Linked DNA regions of Homo sapiens. The protein of the gene in region 4 interacts with the protein of the main gene of each other region in a pairwise test. Each region holds a gene or a part of one and is shown on either strand. Other genes may lie near its edges.

Region 1 (3,500 bases), on a different chromosome or scaffold from region 4:
TAGGCTATGAACAATTTATGATTTTATTAAAATCATAGAAAGGACTACTTATCTTCATATTTGAGAAGTTTATATCATTGTGCTTTTACTTAGTTTTCAGCATATTTGCTTCCCCTCATTTTAAAGTAAATTTCTCTAAGCATATTCTATGCTTTGTTCTTCTGCTTCTGATTTGATATATTATTTTCCTCCTAGAACTCAAACATTGAGCTTTACACCTAGCTTCTGAGAGTCACTGTAATGGAAAAGAGAAGCCAGATAATTTCTTGGCCATACCCTGCCTTCAAACTTATCCAGGATGTGTTCATTTTGCAGCTCTTGGAGCAGTTCCATCTCCTATTGATTGTTACCTCTGCAATCGAGGTCTGAAGACTCTACATGTCCGAATGGAAAAGCATTTCAAAAACGGAATGGCAGTTGCCCAGTTCCTGGAATCTAATCCTTGGGTAGAAAAGGTTATTTATCCTGGTATGTTAATTTGATTTCTAAGCAGATCTACTAGGATTTCAGCAGTTATCCTGAGCATCGTGTTTATGTAACATTTATTTGTAAGTTAGGTGCTTTCACGTATTGTTTTTGTTCATTTATTATTGAGCACTGCCATGTGTCAGGCTCTGTGGTGGGTCAGGTGGAAAGAAGATAGACCTGGTCTCTACTGTTGTATTGCCTCTAGTTTAGTGGATGCTTGGATAGTAGAAAATCAGTTTTATGCATTAGTTGTTCCTGTGGTGGTCTGTGATTTGAAGGCTTGTGTATACCTATTCAAAGATTTTAACATTAGACTTTTCAGTTGATTTGCTTATAATCTTGTCTGTCTGCTATTCAGCATTAGCTGTCACTTTAATCTGATAGAGGTTTGTCCCAGTTGAGACTTGATATTAGGTGCTAAAATTCCCCTGAGGTTCTCTCTCTCTCTTTTTTTTTTTTTTTTTTTTTGAGACGGAGTTTCACTCTTGCCCAGGCTGGAGTGCAATGATGCAATTTCAGCTCACTGCAACCTCTGCCTCCCGGGTTCAAGTGATTCTCTTGCCTCAGCCTCCCGAGTAGCTGGGATTACAGGTGCCCGCCACCACGCCCAGCTATTTTTTGTATTTTTAGTAAAGACGGGGTTTCACCATGTTGGCCAGTCTGGTCTCGAACTCCTGACCTCAGGTGATCTGCCTGCCTTGGCCTCTCAAAGTGCTGGGATTACAGGCGTGAGCCACTACGCCCAGCCCCCTGAGGTTCTCTCCTGTATTTCTCTCCTGTATTTTTATTCCTTCACCTCTTCCAGCATCTAGAAAGTCTTCTGTGGAGTTGGCTGACTTACATCTTACTTTTTGAATTTATTTTTACCAGTCTTTTAAGCTGTGGTGGTCCTAAGTAGTTCTTTTCTTTTTAGATCCTTTTGAGGGTTCTAGCATCTAGAATATATAGAAAAATTAAGACTGGAATTTCACTAGGAAATTCACAAGGAATTTAGAGAAACCAAAGCGAAATACATATGAAACTAAATGCCCTAAAGGTACTTTAGGTAAAGAGCTGTTGATTGATATATATTTTGGATGGAGGGAGAGAGAAGAGTTTTGAGCTATGCCATGAAGAATGGGCAGCATTGGTTAAAAGGGCATAGACAAGGTATTGGAGATTTATTCAAGAAATTTTTATTAAACGCCAGCTATGAGCCAGGCTTTGCACTAGGAACTGGGATCCAATTAGTAACAAAAGAAATGGATTTGCCCTCATGGAGCAACTCTGGTGGCTAAGACAGATACTAAGCAAGAAATTACAGGATATAATTAACAAGGGAAGTCCAGGTTGAAGGGACAGCATGTGCAAAGGTCCTGAGATGAAAGGGAGTGCAGTGGTGCTGGCATAAAGAAAGCTGAAGAGGGTAGAAAAGATGAGGCAACATGAAGCTGGAGAGATAGGGGCCCAAGCAAGTAGTCAGATGTGAGCATGGCATAATCCTCGTCTTAGGCTTATTTGCAGTTAAGTAGACAGTGAAAAATACCACCCTCCCCCCCCAAAAATTACATGTTTAATTCTAAAATAAGACTTATGATACCTTATGATTACAGGGCTGCCCTCTCATCCACAGCATGAGTTGGTGAAGCGTCAGTGTACAGGTTGTACAGGGATGGTCACCTTTTATATTAAGGGCACTCTTCAGCATGCTGAGATTTTCCTCAAGAACCTAAAGGTAAACTTACAAAATAGGTTTAAAATTGTAGGAGGTAAGGCCTTACAGCAGTTCACTATCTCTCACTTCTACTCAAGCCAGATAATGTTTTTGTATCTGCAGGTTACACTCATAAACCTCTTTATCATGAAATGCATTGGGTTGAAAACAACTTAAACAACAATGTAGCAGACATCTAAATATGTTCACTTACTTAACTCTCCACATACTACAATCAGTTTGGAGACACAGAGTATTCTAATGCATTTATTTAAAAGTGAACCCCTTTTTTCAGATGAAATAGGTAAAACCTCGAAGTAGTGTGCAGTTAGTGCACTGCACAAGGGCTGTTCTAAAATCCATCCTGTGAATGGCTTTCCAAACCCTGTGCCTCCTAAGCTGCATCTGACTGGGGTGAGGCCTTTGTCTAATTTTCAAAAAGCCAGGAGGAGGCTCTCAGGGGCCTTGAGCAAGAGGCCTGTCCAACTCCATACACTGGGCTTAACCTTGAGCTCATGCAGTTTATATACTACAGAATAGATTAACAGAAAGCTGCCAGATTAGTCAAAGTGTTCCTGGTGTCACCTTAATTTAATACATTTACCAAAGTAACTTTTAAAACATTTGTAAAGTTTTATGACACTATCACACTCAACATAAAAACAGTGGTTTTTTTTTTTTCCCCTATTCCAGCAGGGATTTAAAGGATGTATTTCATAAGTGATATATATTAACAAGGAAGTATGTATAACTTGGGAAGCATTTAGAGATTTTTTTATTTAAGTGGTAACCACAGAGCAAAGTCTCAAATGCAATAATTTTTTTTTTTTTTTTTTTTTTTTTAGGCAGAGTTTCACTCTTTTGCCCAGACTGGAGTTCAGTGGCATGATCTCGGCTCACTGCAACCTCCACCTCCTGGGTTGAAGTGATACTCCTGCTTCAGCCTTCCAGGTAGCTGGGATTACAGGTGCGTGCCACCATGCTCAGCTAATTTTTGTATTTTTAGTAGAGATGGGGTTTCACTAGTTGGCCAGGCTGGTCTCGAACTCCTGACCTCGGTGATCCGCCTGACTTGGCCTCCCAAAGTGCTGGGATTACAGGCATGAGCCACTGTGCCTGGCCTAAAAACATTTATTTTTAGATTTTAGTATTTTTATTTTACTAGAAAATCTAAATTCATGTTTTCTTTGCTATAGCTATTTACTCTGGCCGAGAGCTTGGGAGGATTCGAAAGCCTTGCTGAGCTTCCGTAAGTATAGTTCTGTTTTTCTCAGTATTTTAAATTTGATGTCAGCTTTAATGATTGGGAAAGAAATATGATAAGGTCAGGGATAATTCA
Region 2 (3,500 bases), on a different chromosome or scaffold from region 4:
AGCATAGACCTCCTGGGAAGACTATGAAGGATAGGTATCAGGCACCTAAGAAGCAGATCTTAAGAAAACACCAATTCTTCTTCCTGCCATCTAATTTTTTTTTTTTGAGACGGAGTCTTGCTCTGTCACCCAGGCTGGGGTGCAGTGGCGCAGCTCAGCTCACTCCAACCTCTGCCTCTCGAGTTCAAGCGATTCTCCAGCCTCTCCCTCCAGAGTAACCGGGACTACAGGTGCACCCCAACCACACCCAGCTAATTTCTGTATATTTAGTAGAGATGGGAGTTTCCCCATGTTGGCCAGGCTGGTCTCGAACTCCTTACCTCAAGTGATCCACTCGCCTCAGCTTCCCAAAGTGGTGGGATTATAGGCGTGAGCCACCATGCCCGTCCTGCCATCTAAAATTGGTAGGGAGAGGTAGCCAGGTAGCCAGGCAGTTGTTGGGAAGGGCAGGAGGACTCTTTAGAATGTAACCTATCAAGTGTGCATACCACCTCTGGACAAAGGAGTCCAGAATGTGCCTACCCTCTGGGTTATGTAACTCCCATGAAAAAGTCAGTCCCCTTAGCCTGGGAGCCACAACCACCTTTCAGATCTTCTCCTACCTGTCACAGAATGACTATGGGGCCTGGGAAGAGAAGCCTAATGTTTCGGGTCTGAGACCAACTGACAGGAAGCTTCTGAAATACTAGTAATGCTCCAAGGTATACTTTGCTCAAGAAGTCCAGCAGCATCAGAGAAAAGCTTCCTCAGCAGGCTGATAAACAGACCAAAACCAGACCACAGAGCCCAAGCCAGAAAGAAAGCAGGCACTTCACCTCCAAGACTCCCTTGTTTATTCAGTGGCCATAGTTAGGACACAGAACCCACTCCCTTCCTAGAATCCCAGCCTTTGAGGGCTCTAGAGAGGCAAAGCCCCCAAAGGATTGGCCATGGATGGTTTGGGAGGCAATTCTAATGACTTCGCTTAAGGTCATTACCTATTCACAATGCTGGTGAGCTCCCGCAGCCGCTCCTCTCCTAGCTGCCTGTCTGCCTCACTAGCAGCAGCGTCTCGACCCTTCAAAATTGGCAATTCAAAATGCTTCTTGAATTCATGGGCAGTCCCTAAACACAGGAGAGAAGGAAAACAGAAGAATGTGGAAAAGGAATGATTTTCCCACAGCTAGTGATGGCAGACTACCTTCTCACAAACCAGCCTTCCTACCAAGAACAAGGCTAAACAAAATATAGGCCAATTTCTGTTTAACAGATCAGAGAGGTATCAAAGCAGTGAAGACTTGAAAGGCCAAAAGTGAGATGATAGGTTAAAATCCAAATATATAATTACTTAGAGTAAATGTAAATGGATTGAATAGTCCACTAAAAAGACAAACATGGCCAGAGTGGATTTTTTTTTTTTCCTGCAATGGAGTCTTGCTCTGTCACCCAGGCTGGAGTGCAATCTCGGCTCACTGCAACCTCTGCCTCCCAGGTTCAGGCAATTCTCCTGCCTCAGCCTCCCGAGTAGTTGGGATTACAGGCACCCCTTCTCCGTGCCCAGGTAATTTTTGTATTTCTAGTAGAGACGGGGTTTCACCATGTTGGCCACGCTGGTCTCGAACTCCTGATCTCGCGATCTGCCCGCCTCAGCCTCCCAAAGTGCTGGGATTACAGGCATGAGCCACCGTGCCCGGCCAATTTTTTTTTTTTTGAGACAGGTTCTCTCCCTGTCGCCCAGGCTGGAATGCAATGGGGCAATCATGGCTCACCACAGCCTCAACCTCCCAAGTAGCTGGGACTACAGGCACATGCCACCACACTCAGCTAACTTTTGTATTTTTTTTGTAGAGATGGGATTTTGCCATGTTGCCCAGGCTGGTCTTGAACTCCTGGGCTCAAGGTACCCTCCCGCCTTGGTCTCCCAAAGTGCTGGGATTACAGTTGTGAGCCACCACACCTGGCCACATTGAGAGAAATTAAAGATGACCTAAACAAGTTGAGAGACAGATCATATTAATATATTGGAAGGTTCCGTATTATAAAAATGAAAGATCTTTCAGAATTTATCTGTTTCAATACAGCCCAATTAAAATCCAGTTAGAGTTTTTTGGTGGGTATGGCAGGCAGTAGGTGTATAAATTGACAAGTTGATTCTAAAATTTACATGGGAATGCAAAGGGCCAAGAATATCTAGGACAATGTTAAGGAGTAAGAATATAGTTGGAGGCTGAGCAGATTGCTTGAGCTCAAGAGTTCAAGACCAGCCTGGGCAACATGGCAAAACCCCACCTCTACCCAAAATACAAAAATTAGCCAGGCATGATGGTGTGTGCCTGTTGTCCCAGCTACTCAGGAGGCTGAGGCAGGAGGATCACTAGAGCCCGGAAGTTAAGGCTGCAGTGAGCCATGATCTCACCACTGCATTCCAGCCTGGGTGACAAAGCGAGACCCTGTGTCAAAAAAAAAAAAAAAAGACTATAGTTGGAATATTCACACTAATGGATATCAAGACTTATTAGGCCACAGTAAATAAAGCAGAGAAGTACTGACACAAGGAGACAAACGGACCAGAGGAACAGAATAGAGTCCATAAATAGAGCAACACATATATGAACATTTGATTTATGAAGAAGGTAGCACTGCAAAGCAATGGGGGAAAGAACGGTTTTTTCAATATATGATGTAGGGTGAACCAGATATCCAAACAGAAAAAGATGGAAGCCAGGCATAGGGGCTCATGCCCATAATTCCAGCAGTTTGGGAGGCTGATACAAGAGAATCATTTGAACCCAGGAATTCAAGACCAGCCTGAGCAACATATGAGACCCCATCTCTATAAAAAATTTAAAAGTTAGCCAATAGTGGTGGCATATGCCTGTAGTCCCAGCTACTCAGGAGGCCAAAGTGGGAGGATTGCTTGAGCCCAGGAAGTTGAGGGTACAGTGAGCTATGACTGCAACGCTGTACTCCAGCCTGGGCAACAGAGACTCTGTCTCAACAAACAAAACCAAACCAGTAGAATAAATTGTAGTGTACTCATAACATGCAATAGTATGCAATTATGAAAATGAACAAACTACTGCTACACATAATGTGGATAAACTTTATAAACATGTTGAACAAAAGAAACCAGATGTAAAGGAATACATACTATATGATTTCATTAACATAAATTCAAAAATAGGCAAAACCAACCTATAGTGTCAGGAAGGAGTTTGCTGCCGGGACAAAAGGAGAGGATAGTGATTAGAAAAGGGGCTGCTGAGAGAGTGTTAGTAATTCATCTGATGGTGGTTACACAAATGTGTTCACTTGGTCATAATCTTGCCACTCAGCAGGTTCTCTGCCTACTCTTGAGCACTGGCAAGTTGGGGTGACACTAACACACCCTTTCACAAATATATGTGTGGTTGCCAGGGATTAGGGGAGGGAGGAATGAGGAGTTTTGATTATTATTACTATTTTAGAGACAGGGCCTTGCTCTGTTGCCCAGGCTAGAGTGCAGTGGCATGATCACAGCC
Region 3 (3,500 bases), on a different chromosome or scaffold from region 4:
TGGGCCTCAGCTCCACCAGGGTAAGGTGGGCACCCCTCAGGCTCTAGCTAGAACAAACTGCATGTGTGGAAATCAGTATCAGGCTTCTGGGAAACACTGGCCTACCCGGACCCAGTGACCAATTCCAGGAAACAAGGAAACACTAAGAAAAGCCCACCTGGTCAGGTGCGGTGGCTCACGCCTGTAATCCTAGCAGTTTGGGAGGCTGAGGCAGGTGGATCACCTGAGGTCAGGAGTTCGAGACCAGCCTGGCCAACATGGCGAAACCCTGTCTCTACTAAAAATACAAAAATTAGCTGGGCATGGTGGCACACGCCTGTAATCCCAGCTACTCAGGAGGGTGAGGCAGGAGAATCGCTTGAACCTGGGAAGCAGAGGATGCACTGAACCGAGATCGCGCCACTGCACTCCAGCCTGGGCGACAGAGCAAGACTCTTGTCTCAAAAAATAAAAAATAAAAAAATAGGCCAGGCGTGGTGTACTTTGCGAGGCCAAGGCAGTTGGATCACCTGAGGTCAAGAGTTTGAGACCAACCTGGCCAACATGGGAAAACCCTGTCTCTACTAAAAATACAAAAATTAGCCGGGTATGGTGGCGCACGCCTGTAATCCCAGCTACTAGGGAGGGTGAGGCAGGAGAATTGCTTGAACCTGGGAGGCAGAGGTTGTAGTGAGCCGGGCTTGTGCTACTACATGCCAGCCTGGGCAACAGAGCAAGATTCCGTCTCAAAAAACAAACAAACAGAAAAAGAAAAGCTCAGCTTTCAGGCCAGCCTTCCTCATCATTCAGATCCCCTGCCCCGGCCCCGTGTACCAGGAAACCTGAGCACCACCCACCCCACCCACCCCACCCACCCCTACTGTGGGCTCTGCCATAGAGCAGCCTCTCTGAGGCCTGGCCCAGGAGCGCTGCCTGCGAGGTCCCTACTGTGCTTCCCTCTCAGGAGGGCTCACCTGGAGAGGGGCTCTCCGCCCGGGGAAGGCCTCCTTCTGCCACTTCCCTGTCTTTGGGTGAGTCCTTGCTGTCTGGGCCCCTGAGCTGGGTGTGGGAGAAGAGCTGCAAGACGAAGCCGGCGGGGAAGCTGCCGTCAGTGAAGTGTCGGACCTCGGCTGGTGCTGCGAAAGTCTCCGTGGGCGAGTCTGGCGATGGGGGCTCTGGAAGGGAGGACGGGATGGAACTGTGAGTGAAAAAGCCTCAGGAGCTGCAGGCGCCCTGCGCCCAGGCCCTGCTCCATCCTCACTGATGCGGATTTCCTCAGAGCACTGCGGCCAGAGCCCACGCCTCCCCCGGGCCTCCCCTTCACCTGGGTCAGGGTCCAGGTTTTTGGTCATAGGTCTGCCTCTTTTCTTTCTGACTGGCTCTTCCCCTGGGGGTTCCTTCCATCTCTGACCACGGGGCTTCTTATTTCCTGGCTCTGTGGCAGGGACAGCTGCAAAAAGAAAAGACCTCATACCCTTTTAAAGAGGCCATCCCCGAACCCTGCCACCCCAGGGCTCCTGAAGATACCTGCCCAGAACACAGGGCCTGTATTTCACCCTGTCCCCAAACCCCCACCTCCACCGGGGCTCACTGGCTTCTCTGTTGACTAACCAGGAAGCTCGAGGGGGCGGAGTCCCCTGGGCCGGCTCCTTTTAGGGAGGGATGGGTTATCCTCAGAGTCAAGGAGAACGACGATTTCGGCTGGCATTCTGGCAGCGTCTGGGTTGGCGTCTGGGTCTGGGTGGGCATCCTGGCCCGAGTCTGCAGGGAGCAAGAGCACAATGAGCTTCTAGTGCCCCAACAAGTCCGACTTCTCCCTTCGCCAGCCCCAGGACCAACTACCTGAGTTGGGTGGGGACGGCTGCTCAGCTCTCACGTCTTGCAAGAGGGCCACCCCTTCACTCCAGGCCTCCAGGATATTGCTCTTCTCAGAAGGGCTCAGGTCCAAGGTGTGAGGGTGCTGCTCCAAGATGTGCGAGCGAGCTGTGTCGGCCGAGGGTGCCCGGATCTCAGCGCCACACACCATGCACAGTGCCCGCCCGCTGCCTCCTGGGCTGCTGCCCACCAGGAACTCCTGCTCCCAAGACACCTGCTGCTTCGGCTCCTCACAGCCATCACTGCCTGCCTCTAGCGGGCTGGGTCTAGGCGGTGGGGTCTTCTCCTGTTGGGTCACTGCGAGGGGAGAGGGGGAGGGTGTTATCACTAAAGGTGCCCACAACCAACAACACTTAGCACGTCTCCAGACTCAGTGGTTTGAGTGGGATGGGGGAGGAGAGCATTTCTGGCCAAAGTGTTCTTCTTCCTTCCCCTGGAGCCCATGAGGCACACGCCACACTCAACACAGCCGATGTGCCCGGGATCCCACGACTCTCGCGTCTATACTTCCTCTTGATCTAGTCTTGGACCTTAGGACTAACTACACATACTTTCCCAACAGGCTGCATTCTTGCAGGTCTCCAGCCTTTGCACATCTGTCCAGACCACCCTAATTGGGCTGGGCAACATCATCCCTGCGAAGCTTTCCAGAACCCCAATCCCTGACAATAGATTTCATCCAAATCTGACTTCTACACTTTCTTGAGGATGAGGAAGGTAAATTCTTTTAATTTTTAAATTTTATTTATTTATTTTGAGACAGAGTCTCACTTTGTCACCCAGGCTGGAATGCAATGGCGTAATCTCAGCTCATTGCAGCCTTGACCTCCTGGGTTCAAGCGATCCTCCTGCTTCAGCCTCCCAAGCACCTGGGACTACAGGTGAGCGCCACCATGCCTGGCTAATAATTTTTTTTTTAAAAGATGGGGGTCTCATTTTGTCACCCAGGCTGGAGTACAGTGGTGTTATCATAGCTTACTGCTGCCTTCAACTCCTGGACTCAAGGGACCCTCCAGCCTTAGCCACCTGAGTAGCTAGGGCTACAGATAGATGCATGCTATCACACCCAGCTAATTAACAAACAAAAAAATAATTTTTAAGAGATGGGGTCTTGCTATGTTGCCCAGGCTGGTTGTGAACTCCCGGGCTCAAGCAATCCTCCTGCTTCAGCCTCCCAAAGTGCTGGGATTATAGGCATGAGCCACCATGCCCGTTCTAAAGGCCACCCCATCCCCTCAGAACTCGCCTCCCTTCTCAGTGCTCACAGAGCATTTACAGCCATGGTCCCACTCCTATTGCTGCCTGATACCTGCTCTTTGTGTACACAGACAGACCATAAGCTTTCACAGGGCATCACCCTTTCCAGTTCAGCAAAGAAGGCAGCCTTAGACCTGCATCAGCCTGGAAGCTCAGTGCTTTTACGAAGTGCCCATGATCCTTCACGGCTGCATCTCCCTCCTACCTTCCAGAGAGGATGGGACAAAATTAAAACACAGGAGGCCCTAATACCTGGGGGCTGCATGGAAGAGGTGGTATGAGAAATAGGAGCCTCGGCTTGCATGGATACAAGAGGTGGTGTCTGAAAGAGATACGAGATATGTCTTGTACCTATCTCTCATGCGACCATGGGCAGAAATGACCTCTCA
Region 4 (3,500 bases):
CATGTGAGATCGGTCAGAAGCAAAGTTCTTCAAATATGAATCTGCACGGATCACTCTAAATTTCCTGCAGAAAAATCAATATACACTCACATTAGGGAGATGTCATGTTTGAAATTCTAACTCCATTTTTATATCGACTCATTTCCTATGACATGCACAAAACTACTCATGCATTTCTGTATGGTTAGTAATACAGGCAACTTTACTACCTATTAGAGAAGCATAGGAAATGATCAACCAAACCCCGAAACAGAAAGGCAAAGGCACAAAAATATATCTGGTTGCCTCGATTTACTCGATTTGTGTATCAAGGGCAATGGGCATGATTTTCTGATGCTGCCCTCACAGCCCTCTCAATGGTGACAGCACGAGGTATCCCCACAAAAACAAAAAGAATATAAGAAAAATCCCCAACCCGCTTGAAATTAAATGTCTGAGATCTCATCACACAAAATTTTAAAAGAATGACAACCTTTCATATGATAGATAACTTTTAAAGCTTTAAAACATTTTGAATCTCCTGTGTTGCAAATACATCATTCTTAAACATCAACTCAATGGTGATGTCAGACGAGATCTTTACAAAACAATTGTCAAAAAAAAAAAGAACCTCTGTGGAATCGTCAAATTCTTACTTCAGAAAATAAGTAAATCCATCTTGAATGTCCTCACCTCCTAAACTGTGGGTGAATGTCATCATCAGACTTAAAGGCATCTTCTACATAAGTGTCAAAGAGGCAGGGAAATGGCAAGACAGTATCGAGATCATAAATGAAGTTCTGTCCTCCACTTGAAACATGAAGCAAAACAACATGGTAATCCTAAAAGTAAAAGTTGCTGAAGTTAACCAAGTTACTTCATAATGATGAAATCCCAGTATTCAGACACATACCTTATCACTAAAAAGGATATAGGACTGCTACAGCCCTCCTTATAATAGCAAAATAGAATAAAGCAAACACAACACCCTGAAAACATGAAAACAGACTAAATGTCCACAGATAGGGAAATGGTTAAATAATGGAAATGTTCATAGTCATTAAATGCACATCCTCTGAAACTGCAATTTTACCTCTAGGAAACTTTTTTTTTTTTTTTTTTTTTGAGATGGAGTCTTACTCTCGTCACCCAGGTTGGAGTGCAGTGGCATGATCTCAGCTCACTGCAACCTCCACCTGCCGGGTTCAAGCAATTCTCTTGCCTCAGCCTCCCGAGTAGCTGGGATTACAAGCGCGCACCACGATGCCCAGCTAATTTTTTGTATTTTTAGTAGAGATAGGGTTTCATCATGCTGGCAAGGCTGGTCTTGAACCCCTGACCTCAGGCGATCCACCCGCCTCAGTCTCCAAAAGTGCTAGGATTACAGGTGTGAGCCACGGTGCCTGGCCCCACATATTTTTTTTAATTGAGACAGAGTCTTGCTCTATCACCCAGGCTGGCGTGCAGTGGCATAATCTCAGCTCACTGCAACCTCCGCCTCCTGGGTTCAAGCGATTCTCCTGCCTCAGCCTCCTGAGTAGCTGGGACTACAGACACCCGCCACCACGCCCAGCTAATTTTTGTATTTTTAGTAGAGATGGTGTTTCACCATGTTGGCCAGGCTGGTCTCCAACTTCTGGCCTCAAGTGATCCCCCCGCCTCAGCCTCCCAAAGTCCTGGAATTACAGGTGTGAGCCACAGTGCCGGCCCCACCTGCTATTTGTTAAAAGCTATCTGTATATAAAGACATACGTGCGCATTCAGAAGTACATTTGCATGCATGTGAATGCAGAGGAAAACGTCTGCAAGGATCTGCTCCAAACTAGTAACAAAGGAGGCTTCTGGGGGTCAGCCTGGAGAGGAGAAGGAGGACTTTAATTTCTAGTTTGGAACCACTTTTGCAATTAAAAGAAAGGAAAAACTATTTTTTAAAAAAAGAAGTTAGCCAAGCTTTCATCTGTAGCCACTAAGGGAGAAAGAAAAAGACAGCTTTTCCCACACAGCTCTGTCACAGTGTGGATGTTAATTCTCACCCTCACTCTCAGACTCAAGGTACTGCCCAACACCAGCGATGAGCTGAAAGGGATTTCAGGGAGGTGATCAAGGGACATGAGCAATGTGGTGCTCTGAGTTCTTCCAAAGAAAAACGCTCTCATAGAGAACAGCACTGTGAAATCAAAGCAACCTAGCAACATTAGTAATACCAACTTATATTTCTACAATATCTTAGAGTTTAAAAGGCACTTTCTTTCTCAAATATCATTCTACTTGAGCCCTGTATAAATCCTGAGGTAAGAACAATACTTAAGACTAGGGATGCTGTGCCTTTAAAAGCCTGAGTGCTGCCTTTGGCTCTAAGTCTGTCTTAGCAAAACAGAAAGATTCAAAAATGAATGCCTATTCTCTGGACTTCCCCAGATACATCCTATCCTCCACGCCCCCAAACAGTCCACCACTGCCTCCCAATGGGTCTGCTCATGTCATTCCCCTCCATCTGCAGCAACCTTCTCTACCTCTTTCTACCACACAAGCTCCAGCTAAAGGCTTTCTTCCCACGAATCAATTTTTTATCTTCTCCCACCCCCTGCCAGAATCTCCGCCTTATCCAAATTCTGTTTCTCTCTTAACATCTTCTAATTCATATTACAGGTTTGTTGTTGTTGTTGTTTTGAGACAGAGTCTCTCTCTGTCACCCAGGCTGGAGCACAGTGGCACAATCCCAGCTCACTGCAACCTCCACCTCCGGGGTTCGAGTGATTTTCCCACCTCAGCCTCCCGAGTAGCTGGGATTACAGGCGCGCCACCACACCCAGCTAATTTTTGTATTTTTAGTAGAGATGGGGTTTCACCATGTTGACCAGGCTGGTCTCGAACTCCTGGCCTCAAGTGATCTCCCTGCCTCTGCCTCCCAAAGTGCTGGGATTATGGGTGTGAGCCACTGTGCCCAGTCCCATATCAGTTTTTTTGAACCACACATTATCTATTCTATGTGAAAGACTGTGCTGCTGAACTGCAGATGCAAAGATGAAAAAGATAAGTTCTCACCCTCAAGAAGTTCCCAGAGAAGTGAATGGGAACCAGGTAAACTGCTGCAGGATATTGTGGAGAACAGAGAACATCAGAGGCAGGAGAGCAATGCAGGCAGGAGAGCAATGCAGGCAGGAGCAGGTAAGCGCCTGGTTCCAATCTCAGCCCCTCCCCTCGGCAACCTCACTCTGCTCTTTTATAAAATGGAGATAACTGGAGTATCTAACTCCAGGGTGTCCAATCTTTTGGCTTCCCTGGGCCACACTGGAAGAAGAATTGTCTTGGGCCACACATAAAATACACTAACACTAACGATTGCTGATAAGCTAAAAAAAAAAAAAATCACAAAAAAATTTCATAATGTTTTAAGAAAGTTTACAAATTTGTGTTGGGCTGCATTTAAAGCTGTCTTGGGCCACATGCAGCCCATAGGCTGCAGGTTAGACAAGCTTGGTCTACCTCATAGTGCTGCTAGAAGCATTAGTGTGTAAATG
Region 5 (3,500 bases), on a different chromosome or scaffold from region 4:
AGAATGAAAGTGAGGATCAAAGGATGCAAGATGTGCCAAGTGCCTGGTCCAGCCCCTGCCCAAACAGGCAGAGTGTGATAAAGTGTCCAGGGAGGGGAAGCCCGCCCCCTGCCACGCAGCCCCCTTCTGGGCTAAGCAGCCTCGCACAGACTGTCCCTCAGGCGCTGATACTGGCCCCATGCCCTGGGCCACATATGCACACTATACACGCTCACACACACCCACCCCACTGGGAATGGCCAAGGTCCCATAGGTCCCCATGACTCATGCCTGAGGAAGAGGCAAGGAAGCCCAGCCCCCTGACCTACAGGCCCTAAGTCCCTTCCACCTGCTGGCCGCCTGGAGGGAGGCCTAGATTCTAACCCTGACCTCTGGGCCTGTCATGGGTCAGTGGCCCATCCTGCCTCTCCTGCCCCATGCAAGGGCTCCTCAGGGCTCTATCCTGGGCCTCTGCTCTCTCCACTCTCACTTGCTCCTGAGATTTTTATTTTATTTTCTTTAGACAGGGTCTCATTCTGTAGCCCAGACTGGAGTGCAGTGATGTGATCATAGCTCACTGCAGCCTTGAACTCCCAGGCTCAAGGGATCCTCCTGACTCAGCCTCCCGAGCAGCTGAGACTACAGGCATGAGCCATCATGCCAGGATAATAATAATAATAACAATAATAATTATTTGTAGACACAAGGTCCAGGCTGGTCTGGAATTCCTGGGATCAAATGATCCTCCTGCTTGGCCTCCCAAAGCACTGGGATTACAGGTGTGAGCCACCTCTCCTGGCCATTCTCCTGAGATTTTAAATGACAACTGCATGACAGACAACCCCATCTTTTGTCATGGCCCAGGATTTCTCCATCTGATGCCCCACCAGCTCTCCCATGCAGGGGCAGAAACCCCACTCCCACAGCCTGGTCCACCCCGGGCCTCAACTTACCAACTCAGAATTCAAGCCACAAGTCCCGGGGCACCTGCAAGAGGCCCTTTACACTACCACAGCCACGTGCTTTTGCAGCTTGCTTGCTTGTTTATTTATTTACTTATGAAAAGTAAATAAATTACTCTTAAAAAACTTTAAAAGTAAAGTTTATTTATTTACTTATGAAACCTTGCTCTGTTGCCCAGGCTGGAGTGCAGTGGTGTGACCTCAGCTCACTGCAACATCCACCTCCTGGGTTCAAGCAATTCTCCTGTCTCAGTCTCCCGAGTAGCTGGGACTACAGGTGCACACCACCACGCCCGGCTCATTTTTGTATTTTTAAGAGAGATGGGGTTTCACCATATTGGTCAGGCTGGTCTCGAACTCCTGACCTCAGGTGATCCACCTAAATCGGCCTCCCAAAGCGCTAGAATTACAGGTGTGAGCCACCGCACCCGGCCTTTTTTAATTAAAAAACAAATTTGTATAGACAGCATCTTGCTATGTTGTCCAGGCTGGTCTTGAACTCCAGGCCTCAAAGGATCCTCCCCATTCGGCCTCCCAAAGTGCTGGGATGACCAAGTGAGCCACTGTGCCTGTACTAAACAGAAGTCTGATGTGCCACCTTGCTCCATCTTCTCTATCTCCATCCTGGTCCATCCAAAGCCTCCACCCAGCCTCCCTTGGCCTGGGGAAGGGGCCTCATCCATAATTGCCTCACTGCACCCACCCCCACCCCTCTCTGCCTTCTTCCCCACCCAACAGCCAGAGAGATCTTCCCAATTTGCAGATCTGACTGCCCTTCCCCTGCACACACCCCTTCCACTGCATTCAGAGTTAAATGCCAGGCACTGGGCCACCCACCAAGGTCCTGACATCAAACAGCAGCCTCCTTTCCTGACCTTCCCCTCCCAGTCCATAAAGCTCCAGGCTTGACACCTTCTTTCCAGTTCTGGAATGCATCAAGCCATCTGCCACCCCCATCCCCTGCACCAAGGCCCTCACACCTGTTTGGCCCCGTTCTGCCTTCACCACCCAGATGAACATCATTTCTTTCAAACCCGCCCAGCCCAGGTCACATGGACTTCAAGTTCAGTATCTGTCTGCCCGCTAGACTGTTAAGTGTTGTGGGGCAGGTCCTAGTGTGTGTGTTTCACTGTTTTCAGCCTGAATTCAGAGGCTGGCACTCAGTAACTGAGCTGGATGAAAGACAAGGCCCCAGGGCTACTGGTCCTCTGGATAGAGGAAGGAATGAAGGAAGGAAGGACAGACATTTGCTAGTATTAATACATGCCAGTGTACCCCAGGCCTGAGTTTCCTTCCTCCCAGAGTCCCTGACATGTGGGAGGGGCTCAGCACTGAGGCATGACCCAGGGAACCAGGTCACCTGCCCTGACGGGCTCACCCGGAGACCTGGGGGTTAACCTTTTGTTTAAAGGGTATCTGTTTGGTCATCAGGGCTTTTCTCCCTGCAAATTGCCCAACACAGAACAGATTTTTTTTTTTTTTTGAGACAGAGTCTTGCTCCGTCATCCAGGCTGGAGTGCAGTGACGTGATCTCGGCTCACTGCAACCTCCGCCTCCACCTCCTGGGTTCAAGAGATTCTCCTGCCTCAGCTTCCCAAGTGGCTGGTATTACAGGCACCTGTCACCATGCCCGGCTAATTTTTGCATTTTTCTTTTTATACTTTATTTTTTGAAGTCTAATTACAGCCGTCCTTTTCTTTCTCTTTTTTGAGACGGAGTCTTGCTCTGTCGCCCAGGCTAGAGTGCAGTGGCGCAATCTCGGCCCACTGTAACCTCTGCCTCCTGGGTTCAAGTGGTTCTCCTGTCTCAGCCTCCCGAGTAGCTGGGATTACAGGCCTGCCACCACGCCTGGCTAATTTTTCTATTTTTAGCAGAGACGGTGTTTCACCATCTTGGCCAGGCTGGTCTCAAACTCCTGACCTGGTGATCCACCCGCCTCGGCCTCCCAAAGTGCTGGGATTACAGGCGTGAGCCACCGCTCCAGGCCTAATTTTTGCATTTTCAGTAGAGATGGGGTTTCATCAAGTTGGCCAAGTTGGTCTTGAACTCCTGACCTCAAGTGATCCACCCACCTTGGCCTCCCAAAGTGCTGGGATTACAGGCATGAACCACTGCACCCAGCCGATGGAACAGATTTATGAACCTCTAACTACTATAACGCTGGCACGCGCCCATCCTTAAACACGACAAATGTTCAGCTGGGATACGTTCTGCAGCTTGATTGTTGTTATATACCCTGATAAATAAGCTAAAAATGTGAGAAAACAAAATTAGTTTAGAAAAACTGATTTAGCCCTCGGCTTCATCGTTTAACTTTTTATGGTTACCATGACAACCAGGGGTCCACTTATTAAGTCACAGCGTCCCCTGTGTAATGCCATCACACAGGCAGTGCAGGGGGGCCACCAGCCATGGACTTACCTTAAAGTCATCCGGAAGCAGCAGCTTGGACGTCCGCAGGAAGCTCAGGACGTAGCGGAAAATCTCCCCATCCCGGTCAATGAAATAATGTTGCTTCAAACTGTCCAGGACGATGGGTTCAGTGCCATTGAAGAGGCG
Region 6 (3,500 bases), on a different chromosome or scaffold from region 4:
TCTATCCAGTCGAACACCCGCTGGTTACTGCTGCCCTCCTTCAGCAGCTTCTCCAGCTGCCTGTTCAGCTCCTCGGAGGGGAGTGCCCTCTGGCCAGGGGCTTCCGACTCCTCTCCCAGGGTATACTCCACCTTCTGCAATGGAAAAGGCCCGCAGTTAAGAGGTAAGGTTGCCAACAGGAGACAAGAAAGAAGACTGGCCAGCCTCAAATGCTAGAATTAACCCAACTCCATCCCCAAACCTGTTCAGCGACGAATGCACCAATGTCCTGGCCTTCAGGTAGAAATTCCTTCCAGCTAAGCCCGGCTTCTCGCCACAGCGTCCCCACCTTTTTAGGACCCTGGAAAACACAAGACCAACCCAGCTTACCAAAGCTCTCTCTCTCCAAGGACCCAACAGCTCTACCACATTAATCCAACAAATATTTACTGAAAGCCTACTAGGTACTTGCTAGGCATTAAGGATGCTATAGAAATACTAATAGGCAAAGCCCTTCCATTCCTACGGTCTGGTGCAGGGCACAGATGTCAGTCAAATAACCACCCAAATAAATAAGAACTCGTCCCAGGAGCGGGCGGTGGCTCACGCCTGTAATCCTAGCACTCTGAAAGGTCGAGGTGGGCGGATCACCTGAGGTCAGGAGTCGGAGACCAGCCTGACCAACATGGTGAAACCCCGTCTCTACAGAAAATACAAAAATTAGCCAGGCGTGGTGGTGGGTGCCTGTAATCCCAGCTACTCGGGAGGCTGAGGCAGGAGAATCGCTTGAACCCAAGGCGAGGGTTGCAATGAGCTGAGATCACGCCACTGCACTCCAGCCTGGGCGACACAGCGAGACTCTGTCTCAAAAAAATAATAATAATAAAATAAAATAAAAGAGAACTTGTCCACCAAAGTGCTATGACACTAGGGTAGGAAAAATGATGTAAGGGCCTCTAGGAAGGGACAACTTCTAACAAGTATGCTTGTTTCCTAAACCCAGAAAATCTTAAGACACAAATATACCCCATCCCTAACACAAATAAAAAATCCTCATAAAACCAGCAGTCTGAGTGCATTTTCTGTAAGGGGCAATAGACTATGAAGACATCACTCTTTTCTTTATAACAGACTAATGGCACTGGCTCTTAGCAAGATTATTGCAGTTCACAGATTTTAAAACATGCCCATTTTTTCACATTTTAACTAAAAGTTGTCTTACAGCCGATATATATCTTTTTTTATTTTGAGACAGAGTCTTGCTCTGTCGCCCAGGCTGGAGTGCAGTGGCACAATCTTGGCTTACTGCAACCTCCCCCTCCTGGGTTCAAGCAATTCTCCTGCCTCAGCCTCCCAAGTAGCTGGGACTACAGGTGCGCACCACCATGTCCAGCTAATTTTTTTGTATTTTTAGTAGATACAGGGTTTCATCATGTTGGCCAGGCTGGTTTCCAACTCCTGACCTCACGTGATCCACCCACCTCTGCCTCCCAAAGTGCTGGGATTACCACGCCCGGCCCAGTCTTTTCTTTCTTAACAGCGCATAAAGAATGTCTTATAATCTATGGCACCTTGGAGTTGATGAAATACACAAATAGTTCAATATGCTTATTTGTTGTTAAAAAACAACTTGTCCTGGTACACGTCTATTTAAAAGAATTAAATGATGTTGACATAACAATTCCTTTAAATCCCAAGTGTGATTCCTCCAGGTTCCAGATGGCTGAACCCTTGAAACTGCACACACTCACCCCAACTTCTCACTTCCACTAAGTACCACATTCAACTTACCTTTCCCCATCTCTTTACCTTTATATTCGCTAGTTACCAATTAACTTTCACAAAGCCGCTTCAGCACCCTGAAAGCCTCCTGTCACAAATATTGTCAAATATTCCTTTGCAACCCCACAGTACTTAAGATACTCCACTCTATTTCAACTGTTTTATGTCACGCTTTACTGTTGTTTTTATCAAGCTGTCATTTCTTTTTTCTTTTTTGGAGACAGAGTCTTGCTCTGTTTCCCAGGCTGGAGTGCAGTGGCACAATCTCGGCTCACTGCTACCTCCGCCTCCCGGGTCAAGTGATTCTCCTGCCTCAGCCTCCTGAGTAGGTGGAATTACAGGCACCTGCCACAACACGGCTAATTTTTGTGTTTTTAGTAGAGATGGGGTTTCACCATATTGGCCAAGCTGGTCTTGAACTCCTGACCTCGTGATCCACCCACGTCGGCCTCTCAAAGTGCTGGGATTACAGGCGTGAGCCACTGCGCCCGGCCCATTTCTTCCTTTTTCTCTACCAACTTGTTTCTTGTGTTTTATTCATTGCTGTGTCCCTAGTGCTTAGTATATGATAAATGATCATCAACAAAACCCTAGTTCAATGAATGAATAAATAAATGCATCAATCACAGGCCTAGGGTCTTAGACTGCCATTCTCCTCCAGTCTTGGCCAGAACTCATGATAGGAACTGGTGTGCGGGAGATGGCCCACCTCAGTATTTCCTCTCCCAGGTACCAACACAATCCTGTCATCACCATCACTCCACTCCACCAATGGACCATGAAGCTTCAGGGCCACAGCAAACAGCCAAAACCACACCGTGGGAGGCATCTCTGGACTCCTGGCCCTCACTCACCATGCTTTTGCACAGGAGGCCCAGGATCTCCAGCAACAGGGAAGCAGCTTTGCCCAACGGTCTCAGAGGCTTTGTAATCTCCCTACAAGAAGAGAAAAACCTAATGCTGACAGCCTCCACAGTTCTCTCACCACTACTCCATCTCCCTCCAAACCAGGGTATCCAACCCAGCCATTTCCCTACCACCTTTCCTCTGGTCTTTACCTCCCCTGAATTCCACCCAGGGGGACTTACCTGAACAGCTCCCCCATGGGCACCCCACCTTCCTGCAGAATGGGTGTTACCAGTTCCGCTAGGTAGAGCCACACGTGGGGGATGTCAATTTCCATGTCCTCAGCCAATTCCAAGATTTCATACAACCTGCCAAGGGAATTCAAAGTCAAGACATTCTAGGCCAGGTCCCCACTCTCCTTCTGGGGCAACGTGGCATGGCTAGGGCATCAACTATGGAACCCCCAGGAACATTTTCTAGACATGGGGACAATTATTTCAAGCTAAGGCCACCTCTGTGTCCTTAGATGGTTTTCACCCCGCTTAACCCCCTAAAGTTATGCTGACCAGGATGGTCAAGGAACCCATACTGTTTTTTGGTTTTTTTTTTGAGACAGTTTTGCTTTTGTCACCCAGGCTGGAGTGCAATGGCACGATCTCGGCTCACTGCAACCTCCACCTCCCGGGTTCAAGCAGTTCTCCTGCCTCAGCCTCCGAGTAGCTGGGATTACTGTGCCACCACGCCTGGCTAATTTTTGTATTATTAGTAGAGACAGGGTTTCACCATGTTGGCCAGGCTGGTCTAGAACTCCCAACCTCACGTGATCCTCTAAGGAATCCAACCCACCTTGGCCTCCCAAAGTGCAGGGATTACAGGCATAAGCCACCACACCC
Region 7 (4,121 bases), on a different chromosome or scaffold from region 4:
GGCAGGGAAGGGCTGAGTCCCATGTTTTTGGTAAGTGCTGTCCCGTCAGCCCCCACCTTGATTCTGGTCATGGCCTGGGACCCTCCCACTGCTGACCTAAGTGCAGCCCTCTCAGACCAATGTCTCCCGCTCCCTGAGACCAATGATCCCAGTATAAGAGAGGGGTCTCAGCACATAGTCCTGCACATGCTCTCTGGGGAGACAGCAGGGGCAGAGCAGATTTCTAAGCAGCCCTCTGTGTTCTGGCCAGGAGGAACCCTCAATCCTCCCTCAGGTTTCTCACCTGGACTCTTGGCAGATCCTGGGACCACTGTAGTTGTGGACCATATGGGGCTCTTTCTGTTGACTGGAAGTCGTCCTCTGAGAACATAGTGCTCACCTGCCCAAGATTCCAAAACAGAAGTAAGGGGCCCCACGTCCCATCACCCCATCATGTGGTTGTCCAGGGCTGACAGCAGAGGCTGGACCCTTCGGTTCTGGGGATTCCAAAGTCCTCCTGTGGGTTTTTCATCTTTACTTCTGCCAGGGCCTGTCCTTCCTTGACTCCCAACCCCTGAGATGAGCAGACATATCCCTTTACACCAAGACCTCATCTCCCTGAAGGTTTCCCAACTTTCTGCCTGTGGTACAAGTGACCTTGCCACTTGGGGCCACCCGTGATGAGGTCCCCACACAGCCAAGGACAGGGGACAGAGAGACTCTGTGGGATCCCTTCATTATGGGATGTGGGTATCTCCAGTCCTCACCAAGGGGACACATACACCTTGAGTCCTAAAGATCCTGGGACTCCTCCCTCTGCTGATCAGGTGTGGCTCCACCTGCTGACCTGTCATCACCCCCTTGAAACAAGGTGCTCACCTCCCTGAGCAAGGTGCCACCCCCAACCTCGTGGCAGAAATGTGAGCATGGCACATGCCTCCCCAACTTGGGCCTCCGAGGGATGAAAACAGAGGAAGCAAGGATTGGTGAGGTCCCTTTTTCTTTGGCATGTGGGAGGGTACATTCTTACCTTCAGTCTTCATCAATTTTCCTCTCCTTGACTACTGGCAGATCCTGGACTCCACCCTGTGCTGACCAGGTGTGTATCCCTCTGCTGACCTGAGGACCTGCCTCAGACCAAGGGCCCCACCTCTCTGAGATATGGGAGGCAGAAAGTGAAGGGGCACTACATGGACACCCCTCATGGGATGCCAAAGGCTGACAGATGAAGCAGATTTCAGGGGTGCCTCCTCTCTCTGGGTTTCCTCCAGGTATTCAGATTTACTCCTGACAAGGCCTATCCATGTCTCTCCTGCTGAACTGTGGATGAGTTTTGCAGGCCACGACCACCATCTCCCAGAGAACCCCAACTAGGAAGTGGGGAGCTGCCTCTCTTTCCTAGAGTCCTGCTTGGGGCCTCCAAGGACCGATGGCAGGGGCAGGTTTTCTACCTCAGGGATAATTGGTTGCCTGAGTCCTCCCTCTGGGACTCCTCCCTGGGTTGACCTGAGGCTCCACTCCTCAGACCACAACCCACTCCTTGCTGACACCCCAAAGGCAGAGTGAGGATGCACCACATGTGGCCACCGTGCCTTGGAACTCCAAGGGCCAAGGTCCCTACTGACCTGGAGTCCAAAGTCTCCTGAGTCCTCCCTCTTCTTCTTCCTCTTGATGCTGGCAGGGCTGCACCCCAGACCCCCTCTGCGGAACTGAGTCTCCATCCCTCAGATTCCCAAGGCTGAATGAAAAGGCACCTCAGTTTGAGACGGCGGGACTATGGGGGGGGGCTGTTCTGGGGTGCTGGGTCCCTTCAGTTGTCCCTCAGGCCTTGCTCACCTCCCAGCAGGGACTGAGCCCTGTCTGTGCTCCCCCTAGGTCTTTCTCATGATACCAAGCCCCTTCCCTCTGTCAGCCCAGGATGCGGAAATCAGGATCCACTTGCCTGGCAGCAATGCCAGGAACTTCCCAGGACTGACAGCAGAGAGGGAGCCTTGCTCTGTGGGGCCTCAGCCCTCCCTCGGGGTCCTGACCTTGATGCCTGGCAGAACCTGGGTCCTGCCCCCCCCAACCAGCCCTGCCCTGGTCACACCAAGCTCTGACCCCACAGTCCCCTGAGGCTTAAGCGGCGGGGGGCAGAAGCCGAGGGGGGTGTCAGAGGGGACGGCCCAGCCTGAGAAGTCCATCCCCATGGGGTGATCCAGGGCTGGCAGCAGAGGCGGTGCTGGATTATCTGGGGTCCTCTATCTGGGTAGGGAGCATCCTCAGTCCTCCCTCAGCATCTCATCTTGCCTCCTCACAGAGCCTGGGCCCGCTGCCCTCAGCAGGTCACAAGCCGCCCTTCAGAACCGGGCTATCACTTCTCTCTGACCCCCTAATGTGCAACTCCGCAGTACCAAGCCCGGAGGTCCTTTGCGTTGTCTGCAGGGACAAGGATGGACTTTGTGGCCCCTCTATCAGGATGGGGTGGAACCTCTCCATAATTTCTCAGAGTCCTGATGTTGATGCCTGGAAAGGCCGGGGCCCCACCCTTTATGGAACTGCCTCTGCCCGGGTCACACCATAGACTCGCAGAGTCTCCTTGGGCATTGAGGAGGGGGATTGTCTCAGCCTGATAATTTGGTCCCCTGTTGTTTCAGGGCTGGCTCCAGGGTTGGCGCTGGATTATTTGGGGCCCTCTATCTGGGTAGGAGGACTCCTCAGTCCTCCCTCAGCTCTCACCTTGCCTCCTCATGGAGCCTGGACCCGCTGCCCTCTGCCACTCTCAAGACACCCCTCAGAAAGACGCTTTCGCTTCTCTCAGATCCCAGAGGCGGAAGCCAATGGAGGTCACATCCGGCCCCCACGCCTGGAGCTTCCCTGGATTTACAGCAGGAGCGAACCCGATTCTGCCCGTGTGGGGGCGGGGCGAGGCGAGGCGGGGCGGGGCGAGGCGAGGCGGGGCGGGGCGGGGTGGGGCAGGGGGAAAAGTAGTGGCGAGGGGTGCAGATGTGGTCGAGGGTCATGGGGGTGCCTCAGTCCTCCCTCAGGTTTCTGACCTTGATTCCTTGCAGAGCCTGGAGCTCCGTCCTCTGCCAATGATGTCTGCTCCTCTCGGACCAAGTCTCTGACTCTGAGTCCCCTGAGGTGGCAGTGAGCGGGAGGTGTGAGGTCGGGGGACAACATTGCCAAGGTCTTCCGGGGCTGACAGGAGGGACCGAGCTGGATTCTGTGGCCCCTCTATGTGGGGAGGGTGGACCGTCAGTCCTCACTCAGGAGGGTCCTCCTCTTGGCTACTGGTTCTTTCATGAAGTGATGGGTGGGAGATGCTCTGTTTCTGTCACCTCTGAGCATTGCCCAACTGCACCCCTTGCAGACAATAGCTGCGGATCCCAGGCTAGGTGCTTCCATGTGGCTTCAGTACCCGTGATTGTAGTGACCTCTGGGAGAAGATGCACACCTTCCTACGGGGGCTCCTCCCCAGCCAGATCTAGACTTTGCAAACTTTTGCCCTGAAAGCTTTATTTTTACACTGAAGAGGCTGAGTGGCTGCAAGAAATTTGCGGAAGTCCTGCGTTTAGAATTTATCTAACACTTCATAGTTCATTTTAGTGATTTTCATTTTTTAATTCTCATTCAGTGTCAAAAATCATACTTAACCTAACTGCCTATTTCACTCTAATGGTCAATACTCTAATTTAATCCATTCTTTATCTTCAATTAAAACGATAATTTTTAAAAAGCCAATCTTTATTTACTGACGTGGTTTTAGTGGTTATCAGCACAAATTCCAGCCGTATTCCTTTAATCAACCAGTGTTTCCTCATGTCCTGAAGTTACCCCATGACTACTGGCACCTGTGGTCTGAGACCCTACCCGAGTTTTCCACAGTGAAGTAGGGGCAGAATTTTAAACATTTCTTTCTTCCTATCCACCCCAACTTCCCTGCCACTCTTCCCCGCCAATCACAAGTATTCCTTCAAAATACAATGAAATTCTCAGGGCTCTCTCATGTTTTTTTTGTTTAGATTTCTTTTTTGATATTGTTTGCTTGTTCCTTTATTTATTTATTTTTATTCTTTAGTTTTCCCGGGTTGTTTTGGGGAGTCTAAGATAGAAGCCCAAGACTGAACGCGGTGGTTCACACCTGTAATCCAAACACTTTG

What was found.
Region 1: the proteins of NTAQ1 (region 4) and CTH interact in binary tests that used the Homo sapiens proteins (3 or more experiments, as listed by UniProt).
Region 2: the proteins of NTAQ1 (region 4) and RAD54L interact in binary tests that used the Homo sapiens proteins (3 or more experiments, as listed by UniProt).
Region 3: the proteins of NTAQ1 (region 4) and SPINDOC interact in binary tests that used the Homo sapiens proteins (3 or more experiments, as listed by UniProt).
Region 5: the proteins of NTAQ1 (region 4) and KCTD15 interact in binary tests that used the Homo sapiens proteins (3 or more experiments, as listed by UniProt).
Region 6: the proteins of NTAQ1 (region 4) and EIF4G1 interact in binary tests that used the Homo sapiens proteins (3 or more experiments, as listed by UniProt).
Region 7: the proteins of NTAQ1 (region 4) and MAGEA11 interact in binary tests that used the Homo sapiens proteins (3 or more experiments, as listed by UniProt).

The regions. Positions count from the first base shown.
Region 1 is NC_000001.11:70,431,768-70,435,267, forward strand, and holds part of CTH (cystathionine gamma-lyase), read left to right. Parts: intron 1-315; coding exon 316-468; intron 469-2,060; coding exon 2,061-2,182; intron 2,183-3,357; coding exon 3,358-3,410; intron 3,411-3,500. UniProt on the Homo sapiens protein: Catalyzes the last step in the trans-sulfuration pathway from L-methionine to L-cysteine in a pyridoxal-5'-phosphate (PLP)-dependent manner, which consists on cleaving the L,L-cystathionine molecule into L-cysteine, ammonia and 2-oxobutanoate.
Region 2 is NC_000001.11:46,268,263-46,271,762, reverse strand, and holds part of RAD54L (DNA repair and recombination protein RAD54-like), read right to left. Parts: intron 1,105-3,500; coding exon 978-1,104; intron 1-977. UniProt on the Homo sapiens protein: Plays an essential role in homologous recombination (HR) which is a major pathway for repairing DNA double-strand breaks (DSBs), single-stranded DNA (ssDNA) gaps, and stalled or collapsed replication forks.
Region 3 is NC_000011.10:63,816,456-63,819,955, reverse strand, and holds part of SPINDOC (spindlin interactor and repressor of chromatin-binding protein), read right to left. Parts: intron 2,152-3,500; coding exon 1,822-2,151; intron 1,741-1,821; coding exon 1,591-1,740; intron 1,430-1,590; coding exon 1,304-1,429; intron 1,155-1,303; coding exon 954-1,154; intron 1-953. UniProt on the Homo sapiens protein: Chromatin protein that stabilizes SPIN1 and enhances its association with histone H3 trimethylated at both 'Lys-4' and 'Lys-9' (H3K4me3K9me3).
Region 4 is NC_000008.11:123,433,774-123,437,273, reverse strand, and holds part of NTAQ1 (protein N-terminal glutamine amidohydrolase), read right to left. Parts: intron 1,833-3,500; exon of another isoform or gene 1,762-1,832; coding exon of another isoform or gene 1,732-1,761; intron 822-1,731; coding exon 673-821; intron 65-672; coding exon 1-64. UniProt on the Homo sapiens protein: Mediates the side-chain deamidation of N-terminal glutamine residues to glutamate, an important step in N-end rule pathway of protein degradation.
Region 5 is NC_000019.10:33,806,870-33,810,369, reverse strand, and holds part of KCTD15 (BTB/POZ domain-containing protein KCTD15), read right to left. Parts: coding exon 3,363-3,500; intron 1-3,362. UniProt on the Homo sapiens protein: During embryonic development, it is involved in neural crest formation. Inhibits AP2 transcriptional activity by interaction with its activation domain.
Region 6 is NC_000003.12:184,328,106-184,331,605, reverse strand, and holds part of EIF4G1 (eukaryotic translation initiation factor 4 gamma 1), read right to left. Parts: intron 2,976-3,500; coding exon 2,850-2,975; intron 2,698-2,849; coding exon 2,616-2,697; intron 341-2,615; coding exon 242-340; intron 135-241; coding exon 1-134.
Region 7 is NC_000023.11:149,710,739-149,714,859, reverse strand, and holds the start of MAGEA11 (melanoma-associated antigen 11), read right to left. Parts: upstream 2,801-4,121; 5' UTR 2,698-2,800; intron 1,718-2,697; 5' UTR 1,701-1,717; coding exon 1,605-1,700; intron 1,591-1,604; exon of another isoform or gene 834-1,590; coding exon of another isoform or gene 762-833; intron 380-761; coding exon 284-379; intron 1-283. UniProt on the Homo sapiens protein: Acts as androgen receptor coregulator that increases androgen receptor activity by modulating the receptors interdomain interaction. May play a role in embryonal development and tumor transformation or aspects of tumor progression.